Homo sapiens: one gene and its partners. The protein of the gene in region 3 purifies or fractionates together with the protein of the main gene of each other region. This does not show direct contact. Each region holds a gene or a part of one and is shown on either strand. Other genes may lie near its edges.

The links. Proteins that work in one complex are often made in the same cells at the same time.
Region 1: the proteins of PRSS22 (region 3) and GALNT1 purify together in Homo sapiens (affinity purification with mass spectrometry; one large-scale study listed by BioGRID and IntAct). This does not show direct contact.
Region 2: the proteins of PRSS22 (region 3) and GPR107 purify together in Homo sapiens (affinity purification with mass spectrometry; one large-scale study listed by BioGRID and IntAct). This does not show direct contact.
Region 4: the proteins of PRSS22 (region 3) and CTPS2 purify together in Homo sapiens (affinity purification with mass spectrometry; one large-scale study listed by BioGRID and IntAct). This does not show direct contact.

What each region holds. Positions count from the first base shown.
Region 1 is NC_000018.10:35,707,240-35,710,739, reverse strand, and holds part of GALNT1 (polypeptide N-acetylgalactosaminyltransferase 1), read right to left. Parts: intron 1,117-3,500; coding exon 970-1,116; 3' UTR 1-969. UniProt on the Homo sapiens protein: Catalyzes the initial reaction in O-linked oligosaccharide biosynthesis, the transfer of an N-acetyl-D-galactosamine residue to a serine or threonine residue on the protein receptor.
Region 2 is NC_000009.12:130,137,285-130,140,664, reverse strand, and holds the end of GPR107 (protein GPR107 isoform 3 precursor), read right to left. Parts: 3' UTR 501-3,380; downstream 1-500. UniProt on the Homo sapiens protein: Has been proposed to act as a receptor for neuronostatin, a peptide derived from the somatostatin/SST precursor.
Region 3 is NC_000016.10:2,855,371-2,859,541, forward strand, and holds the start of PRSS22 (brain-specific serine protease 4 precursor), read right to left. Parts: upstream 2,801-4,171; 5' UTR 2,735-2,800; coding exon 2,653-2,734; intron 1,479-2,652; coding exon 1,452-1,478; exon of another isoform or gene 1,365-1,451; intron 884-1,364; coding exon 712-883; exon of another isoform or gene 550-711; coding exon of another isoform or gene 482-549; coding exon 204-481; intron 1-203. UniProt on the Homo sapiens protein: Preferentially cleaves the synthetic substrate H-D-Leu-Thr-Arg-pNA compared to tosyl-Gly-Pro-Arg-pNA.
Region 4 is NC_000023.11:16,695,670-16,699,169, forward strand, and holds part of CTPS2 (CTP synthase 2), read right to left. Parts: intron 3,425-3,500; coding exon 3,254-3,424; intron 2,668-3,253; coding exon 2,567-2,667; intron 1-2,566. UniProt on the Homo sapiens protein: Catalyzes the ATP-dependent amination of UTP to CTP with either L-glutamine or ammonia as the source of nitrogen. Constitutes the rate-limiting enzyme in the synthesis of cytosine nucleotides.

The sequences.
Region 1 (3,500 bases), on a different chromosome or scaffold from region 3:
GAATCTTGGGTATTTCGCATAATCAGTTAGGTCAAGTGAAGAAGTCGAAAATGTGATAAGAAATTTGTGTGTGTGTGCACATGTAAATCTGTAAGCCAGTTGACCCAAGAGCAACTGAAACATCTAATTTGTTCAGCTGAGATCAGACATTGTTAAATTTCCATTTTTTAGAAGGCAATTAAAAATTACAATTCCAACAGCCCACAAACCAAACAAAAAAAACTGTAGAGAGAAATTAAAACTATATTCAAAGAGCCTTTTTTTTTCAGCTCAATTTCAGCACCCCAAGGAAAATAAAAGCATCCATGACTATCACAGATGAAAACAAAATGAATGTCATTGGAATCAGTTATTTTTCCCCACTGAGGTATAAAATCTATATAGAAATTTGATACTATACTATAACAAATTGTACTTCTCATAGTTCTGTTTTAATTTCCTTTAAACCCTGTTTAATATAGTTTTTTTGTTGTTGTAAAAATGTTGTTTTCATGATTCTGAATCTGGTTCCAGTTCTTTTATTTTTATATCAATATTTAATATACTGGCTACCAGTTCTAATCAGGAAAAAAAATCTTGGAAATCTCTTCATTATGACAGCACGTTCAGCAGAAACTACTGATGTGCAAGCAAACCATAAAAGGTACAGTTCTCCAGAAAGCATATTTTGTTGATTTTTTTTCATTGTCTCAGTATTCTTTACCATGATTTTCGGAGAAAGACTCTTTCAATCTTGTAAACATCAGTGTGCACAGTCTCATTACTATGCAGTTTCACGTCCATGGACAGGAAGGCTGGTTCACAGCTAGTGAAAAGCTAGAGAAGTCTAAGTTTTAATGGCTGATAAACCTTACATCCTGCAGAGGAGGAAAGCACTTTTCCTTTTTTGCTACTTAAGAATGTGGCAGAAATGTATGCTGAGGTAGCCCAGTCAATCCTTATTTTTTTCGTTTTTTTGTAAATTTGGTCTCAGAATATTTCTGGCAGGGTGACGTTTCGAAGAAGCCACTGCTGGGACCGACTTCCATTGCAGTCTCTAATGCTGGGCACCTGGCTATCCTCTTCTGTGGCTTTATCCAGGCACTGATTACTGTTCACATGCTGCAGGGTTAATTTCTGAAATAGAAAAAATCTTAACATGAGAGTGGAAGAAAACAAAACACCTCAAGCATCAGTTTTGGTGATTAAGTTCCTCTGCAGAAAAGGTGTTTTTTTTGGTAATATACATTATTTAAAAGACAACGGAGAAAAGGTAGGTAGGTGGATGGATGGAGAAACAGAGAGAGAGAGAGAGAGAGAGAGAAGTAGGTAGATATGTAGGTCGATAAAGAGGTATGAGGGAGGGAGAAAGGCACTGGGGTCCAGTAGGGTACACTTGACTTGCTGCAAGATGACCTAAATTCTAAGTCCTAATTCTGGCATAAGCTCTGTAACACTATGAGAAGCTTCTCTTTTTTGTGCTTCAGTTTCCTAAACAACAAAAAAAGACCAGATTAGTGGTTCCTAATTTAGGATCCTCAACCTATTTTCAAACAGCTATTTCAAAATTGTTTCATTTCTCTATGATAAGGCTGTTCAAGTTAATTCTGTGATTCCAAAGCTCAAGTTTTTAGAAACTCAGGTCTTTCTGATAACTCAAAATCATAAGAATGTTGGGACAGCTGATATTTAGTAAAATCAATCTTATGCCTATGTCCATAGCAAACCCAGAGGCTATCCTGGTGGTTAAAGGAGATGGTGTGGTACAGAAAGAAAAGCACAGGAATGTGGAGTTGAGTTCACAGCCTGGGTAACTTGAGGTTTCTCATTTTAAAAATTAGGATCACATTACATATTTTGAGCAGATTTTGGGAAACTACATAGATAATGAAGATAAAGTACATAGTGCCTCACCTACAAAAGAGATTCTTAATAAATGGTTAACAGACATAGCTATATATTTTATCCACTTATTTAAGTTCTAGATTTGATGCAGCAACATGTTATTAGGATAATTTTGAAAGGGCAGGGCAGGTAAGAATTAACAGATAGATAGTTAACAATGATCCACACCAATGATTGTGATAATATGCTCTGGTCATGTTAAGGACTTCAAAGTAGTTGTATACAGGAATGTGCATTAAGCATTACTCTACAAATGTAAATTAACTCGAAGGAAATGTAAAATGTTTAACACATAGTTATCTGATTCTTTTACTCATGGCTCTATTTTAATGTAGTTCTTTTATCTGAAACATTTCATTTTCATGAGGCCTTTTTTGCACCTATTAGAACTTAAAACAAAATCTAATAATTGTATACAACTACTTAGGCTTCCAGTCATTTATTATTCTTCCGTGTTGTGGTCAAAGTAGGACCTGGCAGATGACAGTCTATCTTTGCAGATGTCACTACTGATACTGTCTTTAGGTTCAGGATTCTATCTTTAATGCTTCCAAATATAAGACTAGAACCTAGAAGAGAGTCAGCATGGCTGTGGGAATTTTTTTTTCTTTTTTTAATGCAGACTTTGTGTAGTTTATTGAGAGGAGGGGCTTTGCAGTCAGACATTCCTGGGGTGATTTCCAGATTTGTCACACACCAACTATATGCTTCTGAGCAAAAACCTAAACTCTTTGAGACCCAGTTTCCTCATCTATAAAATGGGGACAAAAATACCTCACCGGGTTTTTATGAGGAAACACTGAGATAATGTACATAAAGTGCTGCCTATCCCAGAGTAAATGCTTGATAAATGGTACAATGACATTTACATACAATGGTAATTTGCATTTATAGAGTAATGCTTATTATTGGAAAACACAACATCCTGGCAACGTCCTGAGCAGTCATGGACACAATCCAGCAGCCAGAGCGCTGCGGCTCAGCGTGCACATTGCTGCCAGTGGCTTCAGTCTCAGGAAAGACCAGAACAAGAGAACCTCTCAAACATTCCGGGAGTTCCCGCAAAGCTTATCCCAGTGGCCTCCCTCATCAGGCCCATGGTCACTATTACTAAAAACAAAAAACCCCCAACTAGGCACAACAAAAAATTTAGTTGGGAGAGTTGGTCTCTCTTAACCTAGTTTCTAAAAATGTGCATTTCACTCATCTAGATTCATTAAAATAAACCCATCACAAACACATAGGTTATTGCTCTGTGCTGAGTATTTAACTATTCGACATCAGGACAGAATCCCCATAACTTGGAAGGTGAGCAGCACCCCCAGGAAGCCTAGACTCTGGTGGAGAACCCTGTTCCAGATACAACTCTGGCTGCTGACAGCAGGCACAGAGCCTTGTGGCTTGGAACCTTGTGGGTAGGATGCTGTCATCACAGCACTCCTCAGAGGACTCAGGCAACACCAACTAGTCTCCATTCAGAGAGAGCTGGACTAAGGCATCAGGACAAGCAAGTGACAAGCATCTAACCGTAACCTTTGAAGGAGAGGATAAAAGCTATAATTAATCATTTAGTAAAGTCTACCTGCATCCTAGAAAAAATAATTTGCCAAGCTCCT
Region 2 (3,380 bases), on a different chromosome or scaffold from region 3:
CTGTAGGTAAAATATGCCTCAGTTTAAAACATTCTTAGTAAAATATGGGCTTTGGAACTGAATGACTTCTAAAAATGCTTTGAGTCTAAAATCCTGGATTTCTCTGCTTCCAACATGGGGTAACCCAGAGCTATTGCTAACCGATGCAGAAGGTGCATTTGCGCCTGTCACAGTGCGGGCTCTGCGCCAGGCCTGCCATCTCCCCTCAAATGGCAGCAGTGCCCCGACACTGGTTCACAAGACATCGCCCGCCTCCAGCGTAAGCAGGACAGCAGTAACCTACAACCGGTTTTCAGTTATCTGGGTCTTAATTGCGCTGCCACAGATCGGCTAAGATGCCTGGAACTTCTCTAGTAGGTGTCACTATTGTCAGTAGGAGCTGGTGGGAGGCAGTTAACTAATTTAATGAACAAAAATCACAAAGAAAAAAATTATGAGATGGAGGTGGAGGAGAGACAGCACCAGGAGCCGGCAACTCCCTGCATCTCAAACACACACGGTTCTGCCAGATAATCTTTATTTTACACATTTGCAACACGGCAAGAGAATTCACCCCGTACATCACCATGATCGGATCCCCCACCCATTATACGTTGTATGTTTACATAAATACTCTTCAATGATCATTAGTGTTTTAAAAAAAATACTGAAAACTCCTTCTGCATCCCAATCTCTAACCAGGAAAGCAAATGCTATTTACAGACCTGCAAGCCCTCCCTCAAACGAAACTATTTCTGGATTAAATATGTCTGACTTCTTTTGAGGTCACACGACTAGGCAAATGCAATTTACGATCTGCAAAAGCTGTTTGAAGAGTCAAAGCCCCCATGTGAACACGATTTCTGGACCCTGTAACAGTATCTTACGTGCTCCAAAGGCTGACCTTCTGGAGGCTCACCGCCTCATCTGGCTGCTTCCTCCAAAATCCAAAACCTTGCCTCAAAATAAGCTGTCCTGTGGGTGAGTTGGCTGTTCTGTTTCATTCTGACCATTCTGACTCTGCCCAGAACGCCGTCCCACCTGCAGACACCCTGCTGCCAGAACTCCAACAGGTCCCCGAGGTAGCGAGGCCAAGCCATGCCCATTCACTCCTGCACCATCTCAGTGTGCTCCCTCACACAGGGCCTGAGATGTGTGGGGCCCATGGCCTGGCAGTGAACCATCTAAAAGCATTATCTATTTTTCAAGCATAAACCACGCAGAGAGGCTCAGATGCATCGCTGGGCTACAGAAGTGGCCTCTGGGGAATCTGGAGTATGTTCAGCCTGCCGACCGATAACTACGTTCCAGGTGGTGACAAGTATTAGCGTCAACTCAGGTAGATGCCTTTTAAAAACGCCCTGCCAGAAACACCCTAGGGAAAACTGGAGTGAAGAGCGGGTCTTTCAGAACATTTGGTACTTTCTGGATGAATATCTTTTTGATATACCAAGAGGCATCAAGTCAAAGTCTCACTTCTATAGCGAGGAAGCCATTAACTTGCTGAATCCTAAAGGGAAGAATCAAGCCGCAGGCCACAGGCATCCTGGACTTAGCTTACGTGAGTCTTACAAGGCCAGGGGCGGGTCAGAGAAAAGCAGCGGGGTGAAGTGTGGAGTGTGGAAGCAGGGGTGCAGCAGTGTGCTAGATCTGTTTCCTTTGAAGTACAGCAGCTTGGCAGCATGAAGCATGAGTTGTTCCACTGTTCTACTGGGTGTATGGAGCTGGGCCAACAACCTCAGCAGACTATCTAATGTTCTAAGAGCCTTCCTCAAAGAAAATGTTTCAGGACGGGGGAGAAGGCCAGAATGCATCTGCAATTCCAACAGGCATCGCTATGCTCTTCCTTGGTCTGTAAGGACTGGATGCCTGGAGTAGACTGTTTTAAGTACCAAAACAAGACACCCATTTTAGTGTGGAGGAAGACCAGCCTATATGGCCCAGAGCAATAATATTTGGCATGAGTATGCCACTCTTGAGAAAATTCTCCTTAGCTTAGAAAATGCATCTTTCACACAGCTGCTGGGAGAAAACGCTGCAATGCACCAAAGCCTTTAGCCGGTGTACCCAGAATGAGCCTATGTGGGATCAATAGGCACGGGGAGAAAGATGGCAGAGAAGGGAAGAGGAGGGAGGAGGAGGGAAGGAGGAGGAGAAAGAGGTGGAGGAGGGAGGAGGAGCGGAAGGGGAAGGGGGAGGGGTAAGGGCGAGGGCAGAGGAGGAGGGGGAGGGGATGGGGAAGGGGGAAGGGCGAGGGCAGAGGAGGAGAGAAGAGGGAGGGAGGCTGTGGAATGAGACAGCAGAGATGGCGATGAGGTCATCACGCAGGAGGAAATCTCACCCACACGAGGTGGACTTACAGGGCTGTGTGCTGCCTGGGCAGGCTGGACATGTCCAGGGCGGGGAAACCCTGGATATTTCACTCTGAAGTGGTTTCTTGAAAGAAAACTCAACTGACTCAGGCCATGAGCATCTTTTACACTGAAGCAAGCATCTCCTCACAAGTGCCTCCTACAAGTCACTAGAGTCATATTCAACATTACAAAATGCAGTGCTACTTAAATTTTAAAGCACTGAGGGACCAAGAAATGGGCTGATCAAGTCCTTGGCCACTCACTGTTAAGAGCCAGGATTTACAGATCAATGACTGTTCCTATTGTCCAAGAAATAATTTTCTAGCAAAGCATACACACTTTATTAAATTTCACAGCCAGCAGCGCTTTCAGTCCACAACAGATTTCTCAGAGGAAACATGGATATTTTGCGTAGGCAGAAACAGTGAGGAGTACAAAGCAAAGCTATAAATACCACCAATGGTTCTGCTATGTGCATCCGATATTTTTTGCCCGATCTGAAATACTGCAAGGGCTTAACCATTCAAACACCGCATGACAACGAACCCAGTGGACTGTGAAACTCAGGCTGCAGGAGGGTGGCTTGTCAGCTGGTGAAGCCACTTGGCTTTGGACTCCATCGGTCATCTTTACGCAAGAGCAGAGATGAACGGTGGGTCACGGCTATGACGTGAAGGAGAAAGAGAAGACACACTCACAGAACAGGATGGAGAGCTTCAATAATTTTTTAAAAGCTTGGAACCACCACCTGCTTTCCCAATCTTGGGCTGGGGTTTTGACTTTTCTTGATCATCAATCTGACTTGAAGCCTTTTACCAGTTACAATACAGACATGGCCAGATGACCTGCTTGTTAGGAAGGCTGTGGCCATCTTTGTTTCTGAAACAGTCTTATCTCATCTGTCCACTGCTGCTCTGGAAGGGTCAGGACCAGCACTGCAGACACTCGGCCATGCTGTGAGTGAGCCCAGACATACGCGTGGAATCTGAACACCCAACGCTGGCGTTCCCGTGCCAGTCTGAGGGCTGCGGCTCCAGCGCTTGTCCA
Region 3 (4,171 bases):
GAAGAAGAAAGAAAAGAAAAGAGAAATGGCCTGAAATTGCCCACCAAGGTTTCTTCTGGATTGCAGCCCATCTTTCCTTCCACCTCTGTCATGCTGTGCCTCTGGCCTCCACCCTTTGTTGCTCATGGTGTCTGTGTCCCTGAGTGTCTGCCATCCTCTGTCCCCATCTGCCCCCAACCACCTTGGAGAGGAAGAAGCCGCACCTCCATCTTGGATGCTCCCCCAGCCTGAGATCCAGCAGTGGGTGTTTGGAGGGAGGTGGATAGAGGCATCAGGTAGGCAGATGGGCAGGACCCGCTCTGAGAACTGTATGGAGCGCTCGAGACGCACCAGGGCAATGTCTGCACAGGCACCTTCCTTCCAGGAATACACAGGGTGGGGCTCCACCCAGGCAACACCCACCTTCTGGGACCGAGAGCCAGGGTTCCCCAGCTGCCAGGCCCCCAGCAGCACAGAGAACAGGTATGGTTTGTTCAGGTTGCTGGAAGGAAAGGGAAGGGGAGGATCAGCCAGGCCTGGTCTGGGAGGAGGTACCTGGGGGAACAGCATGGGTGTGAAGGCCCCTGAAGGCAGGAGAGGCTTCTAGGTAGAATCGAGGGGCACCAAGATTGAACAGAGGCCCGGAAGCAGAGCCTGTAAAGGGAGCCCAGGGCCTGGGGCACAAAGCCCAGGGCCTTAGAAGATCAAGTGCCCCAGGCCGGCTGTACATACTCCTTGAAACAGTGGGCAGCAGTGATCACCCAGCGGCTGGTGAGCAGAGAACCTGCGCAGTGGTGGGTCCCATTCTTCTGGATGCTCACGATCCAGGGCCACTCGCTGTCAGTGCTGTCCTCGCCGCCCACAACCCGGTTCAGCTGCTGGGGCTTCCCACAGGCTGGGGGAACTGGAGGGTACGGTCAAGTTTTGTTATCTCCAACTTCCTACAACCCACCCCCGGAATCCCAATCCCTAGGCCTGCACCCCAAGCTTTGCCCACAGCCCAAGCTCCGTTCATGTCCCCAAGCTCTACCCACATCCCAAGTTTCACTTGCACTCCAAGCTCCACCCACACCCCAAGCTCCACCCACATCCTAAGCTCCACCCATACCCCAAGCTCCGCCCACCTCCCCGTCCCATCCCTCCCTCCATCCTCACTCTCTGCTGGTCCTCACCTGGCCCTGGCCTTTCCACTCACTCCTTGTCAGCTGCACCTGGTCTCTCCCTCCCCCTCTTTCCTTACCCTGCTTTCCACTCTGTTCACCTTCCTGGCTCTCTCTCTCCTCTGGCCCTGGCATCTCTCAAGCCTTTCTCCTTGCATCCGTGTCTCCTTCCTGCCTCCCTTCCCCTCTAGCTCTTTCCCCCTCTCACCCCAGCCCCTTTCTGACCTGTGCCCAGGGGACGGACACATAGACACTGCCTGCGCGTGGGCCTCCTCCCTTCTCCCTCCCGTCAGAGCTGCCAGCTCCACTCACCAGGTATCCTGGCCGCATTGAGGATGGCTGAGGGCAAGAGAAGGAAACGGTTAGGCCGGTGAGGGGCCCCAGGACACAGTGGTGAGGGGCCCTCAACGCCCAGTGAGGAAGGCCCCCAACACCCAGTAAGAAGGGATCCCAGTGCCCAGTGAGGTGGAGGTCCCAGCACCCAGTGAGGAGGGTCCCTCAGCGCCCAGTGAGGAGGGGTCCCAGCACCCCCTGAGGAGGGTCCCTCAGCGCCCAGTGAGGAGGGGTCCCAGTACCCAGTGAGGAGGGTCCCTCAGCGCCCAGCGAGAAGCCCCCAGCACCCAGTGAGAAGGGGTCCAGTGCCCAGTGGGAAGGGGTCCCAGCACCCAGTGAGGAGGGGTCCCCAGCGCCCAGTGAGGAGGGCTCCCCAGCGCCTAGTGAGGAGGGTTCCCCAGCGCCCAGTGAGGAGGGGTCCCCAGCGCCCAGTGAGGAGGGCTCCCCAGCGCCCAGTGAGGAGGGGTCCCCAGCGCCCAGTGACGAGGGGGTCCCAGCGCTCAGTGAGGAGGGGGTCCCAGCGCCCAGTGAGGAGGGGTCCCAGCGCCCAGTGAGCAGGCGTCCCAGCGCCCAGTGAGGAGGGGGTCCCCTTGAGTACCTGGTGGTGAGGAACCTCTAGCCCTCCAGTGCCCAGGGAGACTCTCAAGTCTCTCAACCCCAGGGCCCCTACCGGCGGGGCATTTCCTGGGGCCTGGCCAGGCCCTGGCTGCACAGCTGTGACCCTGCCCTCCCGCAGCTTCCCGTCCAGCCTGCCTTCCGGGGACCAGGACCGGCTCCTCGAGGGAGGCACAGACCTGAGCCCCTCGGCTCTGGACGCTGCTGCCGCTGGTGTGCCCTCCCCTGACCTCCTGCGGCAGGAACAACACAAAACGGTGCTTCCCCAGAGGCAAGCAGCGGAGGACGAGGAGATGGGAGAACACGGAGGCGAGAGGGAGCAGGCGATGGCGACGCCGACGGTAACTGGAGACCGAGGCGCGCTGCGTACTTGCTGCGTTTTCTGTTTCATCCTCACAGCCGTAGAAGAAACCGAGGCACAGAGCAGTTAAGGAGCAAGAGATAAACAGAGCAGAAGCGGAAAGGAGATGAGAGAGGCAAGGCCAGGAGGGAGAGAGGGAGGGAGGGAAGGAGGGAAGGAGGGTGGAGGTGAGAGGGAGGAGGGAGGAGCAGCCTCCGGACGTACCTGTCGACGCCAGCAGCAGCAGGGAGGTGAAGGTGCCGAGACAGCCCCCACCCAGGGCTGGGGGCGCTCCAGAAACCACCATGGCTGGTGGGGCGGGGGAGCAGGCAGCAGGCTCGAGAGACCCAGGGCGATGCGGGTCAGGGTGTGTAGGTTCCCTGCAGGTCGCCCCAGGTTTTATCCTGGGAGGCGGAATGCCGTCAGACCAGTCCCCAGGTGGCTCCCGCGGCCACCCCGGCTGTGGGTCCTGGGCAGAGGGCGGGGCTGCGGGGAGGAAGCCAGCCGCTACAGGGCTCTGGGGGGGCTCTAGCTGAGACCCCAGGATGTGGCCTCTGGAAGGGCAGGGGAGGGGGCTTGGGCCCAGAGGTCCCTGACATTAATTGTCCAGGGGCAGAGAAAGGTGCCAGGGCACTGAAAGGAAGGGGTTCCGGGCTGGGGAGGGCCTGGGTTTGGAGAGGCTGAAGTCTGGGGTACTGGGTGTTGGGGGTGGTCCTAGGGCCTTAGGGATCAAGGGGGTGCCCAAAGCTCAGTAACGGCTCCCACCTGCAGGGCCCCAGGCCCCTGTGACTCAGCCCAGAGACCTGGCGCAACCCGGGCTTGGGAATCCCGTTAACCCACTTCCCGAAAGCTGTGAATCAGGTGAGTGGCGACCTTGGTGGCCTCCTGGTGGCCGCCCTCCTGTCGTTCCTGGAGGCGGGGCTCTGCCCTGCGGTTCAGACACCTGACAACTCACCTCACCTGGACTCCTGGGAAGGGGAGGAGCCCATGGGCACCAGGGCTCGGCCAAGCAGGGGGGTTGAGAGAAGAGGGGCCCCGGGAAGGGCTGGGACTCCCAGGATTCAAAGAGCTGCTGGGCTGGGCTGTGGGGGGCCGGGTCCTGGGCTGGGAGTGGATTCTCGGTGCTTCCCCCCAGCGGCTGCCACAGTGGCAACCCGGGGCTGAATCCTGTGAGACCTTCCCTGACTCAGTGCCCTGCAGCGCCCCACACTTGGGACACTCCCACCCAAGCAGGGCAGGCTTCCTCCTCTACAAAGAGGCAGGAGCCTGCGCCCCTTCACTCATTCGATCAACAAGCCTCCAGCAGGGCCCTTGCTACCGCCGGGGGTGAATTAAAAACAACCATAGTGTCTGGGTGGGGTGGCTTATTCCTGTAATCCCAGCACTTTGGGAGGCCAAGACGGACAGATCATGAGGTCAGGAGTTCAATACCAGTCTGGCCAACATAGTAAAACCCCGTCTCTACTAAAAATACAAAAAAAAAAAAATTAGCCAGGCATGGTGGCAGGCGCCCTTAGTCCCATCTACTTGGGAGGCTGAGGCAGGAGAATCGCTTGAACCTGGGAGGCGGAGGTTGCAGTGAGCTGAGATCACGCCACTGCACTCCAGCCTGGGCGACAGAGCGAGACTCTGTTTCAAAAAAAAAAAAAAAAAACCATAGTAGTGAATATGTATGTAATAAATATATTTATACAAATATAAATATAGTATTTATATAATAGAGCAAACATTTAGGAGTGCCATG
Region 4 (3,500 bases), on a different chromosome or scaffold from region 3:
GCCTCCTGAGTAGCTGGGACTATAGGCGCCCACCACCACGCCCGGCTAATTTTTTGTATTTTTAGTAGAGACGGGGTTTCACCGTGTTAGACAGGATGGCCTCGATCTCCTGACCTCGTGATCCACCCGCCTCAGCCTCCCAAAGTGCTGGGATTACAGGCGTGAGCCACCACACCCGGCCCTTTTTAAATTTTTTTTAAAGACAGAGTCTCGCTCTGCCACCCAGGCTGGAGTGCAGTAGTGAGATCATGGCTCACTGCGGCCTCAAACTCCTGGGTATAAATGATCCTCCTGCCTCAGCCTCCCAAGTAGCTGGGACTACAGACCTGCACCACCACACTTGGCTGAGTCTTCTTTTTTGGAAAATAAACAAGAAGAAAGAAAACTGTTATTCCTTTAAGACAAGCATAAATTATTTCAGGTTCATGCCAAGATAACTCGTACTAATATAAATAAAACCTGTCAGCTCCACTGGTATGAGAAGTTGAGGTCTCACTCATAAAAATGGCTTTGAAGACATTTCAACAGCTCCTCTATGATTAAAACTAAAAATCAGCTTTGGCAGTCCTTCTTCAAAAGCTTAAATGGTGCACAGACACAACTGTTGAACACAACTTACAATCAACCAAAGAGGATGGTTGACCACTAGTATCCAATAAGCAAATATAAACATCAGGGTTATAACGGAGAAGGGGTTCTGTTTGTCAGTTTCCCTGTTTCCATGAAATTTAAAATCCAGCCAATGAGCTCCTGGAGAGCAGGAGTCAGATCACACTCAACCTCACATCCTTAGCAGCTATCATCAGGGCTAGTACATATTAAGTGCTAAATTAATCATTGTGAAGACAAGTCAATTCAAGGGTAGAATAAGAAATAAAATTAAAAATTTGCCAGGCATAGTGGTGGTACACTGTAGTCCCAGCTACTTGGGAGGCTGAGGCAAGATGATTGGTTGAGCCCAGAAGTTTGAGGCTGCAGTGGGCTTTGATCGCACCTGTGGATAGCTACTGCACTCCAGCCCGAGGCAACATAGCGAGACCCTATCTATAAAAAATAAATAGCCAGTAACTTTATCAGTTCTACTATTAACAAAATGGATCTTCTACATATCATGATATCTGCTAACACTTACATTGATGACAATAATAATAGCTAACTTATGTTCACTGAGCACTTCCTAAATGCCAGACATTGCAAAGTGCTCTGATACATTGCATTTAATCCCCAATCCTGTTATTATCTTATTATTATAATATTATATTATTACATTATTACAAATGAGGACGTTGAAACTGTGAGAATTTTCCAAAAGTCATACAGGCATCTTAATAATAGCTAATAATTTTTAAGCACTTACTATATCTGTGACACCATTCTAAGCACTAAGTGTAGAGACTTATTTAATCTTCAAAACAATGAGTTACAAATGAGTTAAATGAGTTAAAGAGGCACAGAGAGGTTGAGCAAACTTGCCCAAGGTCACCCCCTCCTCCCCATAAGTGACCTTGCTAGGCTACAAACCCAGACAGTTTGCCTCCAGACTCTTAATCACTGAGCTATACGTGGCTCAGGGGTCACTGCAGAAATACAAACTGAGGCAGCCTGACTCTAAGAACCAAATTGGTCATTATTCTGCTCTTTCGCCCGGCAATTAAGCCAACTGACATTTAGAGGAGGAGGATATGGATGTTATTGTCATTCTGCACGTGGAGAGGAAGGGAACAAGGTGAAGGAAGTAAACAAGTGGCAAGTTCAAATACGACTTTTTTTTTTTTTTTTTTTTTTTTTTAAATTAAGACAGGGTCTGGCTCCATCACCCAGGCTGAAGTGCTGGTGCAATCACTGCTCTCTGCAGCCTCAACCTCCCGGGCTCAAAAGATCCTCCCATCTCACCTTCTCAAGTAGCTGGGACTACAGGTGCGTACCAACATGCCTAGCTAATCTTTGTAGTCTCTGTAGAGACGGGTTTTCGCCATGTTGCCCAGGCTGTCTCAAACTCATGGACTCAAGCAATCCTCCCACCCTGGCATCTGAAAATGCCGGAATTGCAGGCATGAGCCACCTCGCGCAGCCACTAGCTTCTTTCTTTAAACAGCTGATACTAATCACTTATCACCGCTACCATCTGACTTCCCTAACCCAGTGTCTCTTTACACTTCCAAAGCACTTCGGAAATACTTTTCAAATAGTATGCACTAGAATGCAGTCTGTTGTGTGTAGACAGGGTTGTCTGCAAGCTCCCCAAGGTCAGAGACTGTGCCCATCCCAGGCCCCGGCACAGAAGAGGCCCTCACATTGACTTTATCAGCAGCTGATCAGTCTCCACAAGCAGATCACTGCACGTCCACCCAGGAGTAGGTGTGATTGTCTGTCTAATGCCAATCTTGCCCACTCACTTGTGACCACAAAGACAGAAGCCATCTATGTTGTTTCTTGCTGTGACCCCACCTCCTAGCCCAGTGTCCAGCACTCAGGAGGGCGTGTGTAAGTATTTGTCAAATAAATGAAGATCAGATGCTCAAAGACCCAGCAGGATATAATTTTATAAAGAAAGTTCTATGCTTGCCTCAATAACGCATATTTGGGGCTCTTCCTTATTACCATCCACCGGCACCTTGGCTTGATTCATAACCCACTCCTGGACAGCATCAGTAATGTGAGGGACAACTGTAGAAAGAAGTATTAATACAAAAGTTTATTCCATGCTCATGAGAAAAGAATGTGCTTTAGGCCTCCCCAATCACCTGAAAGTCACCTGGCAAGTTACCCTGACATATTTTTGGAAAATGAAAAGAAAAAAACGCAACAATTTTAAAAGAATTAGAACTTGTAGAGCGCAGGGACTGTGACATTTTCAGTTCTACTTGGTTTTTTTGGCTTTGTTTTGTTTTTTTTTTTTAAGATGGAGTCTCACTCTGTCGCCCAGGCTGGAGTGCAGTGGCACGATCTCGGCTCACTGCAATCTCTGCCTCCTGGGTTCGAGCAATTCTCCTGCCTCAGCCTCCCGAATAGCTGGGATTACAGGCATGCGCCACCATGCCTGGCTAATTTTTGTATTTTTAGTAGAGATGGGGTTTCACCATGTTGGTCAGGCTGGTCTCGAACTCCTGACCTCAGGTGATCCACTGGCCTCAGCCTCCCAAAGTGCTGGGATTACAGGCCTGAGCCACCGTGCCCGGCCTTCAGTTCTACTTTTGAGCAGTACAAAGATATTCAGCACACAGGGCTCCATAATGTCTGTGGAATATAATACCTTGCACTGTTTTCCCCAGGTAATCACCACGCCTCTCTTTATTGATCACATGCTGATATATCTTCCCCGTGGTGATATTGTTGTCTTTATAAAGATTAATATCCAAAAATCTTTCATAATTTCCAAGGTCTAAATCAACTTCTCCACCATCATTTAAGACGAAGACTTCACCTAGGATTAAAAAGGCAATGGAAAAATCAAAACTTTGCTTCCAGTAGATTTTTCAAAGATGGACATATTTTTGTTA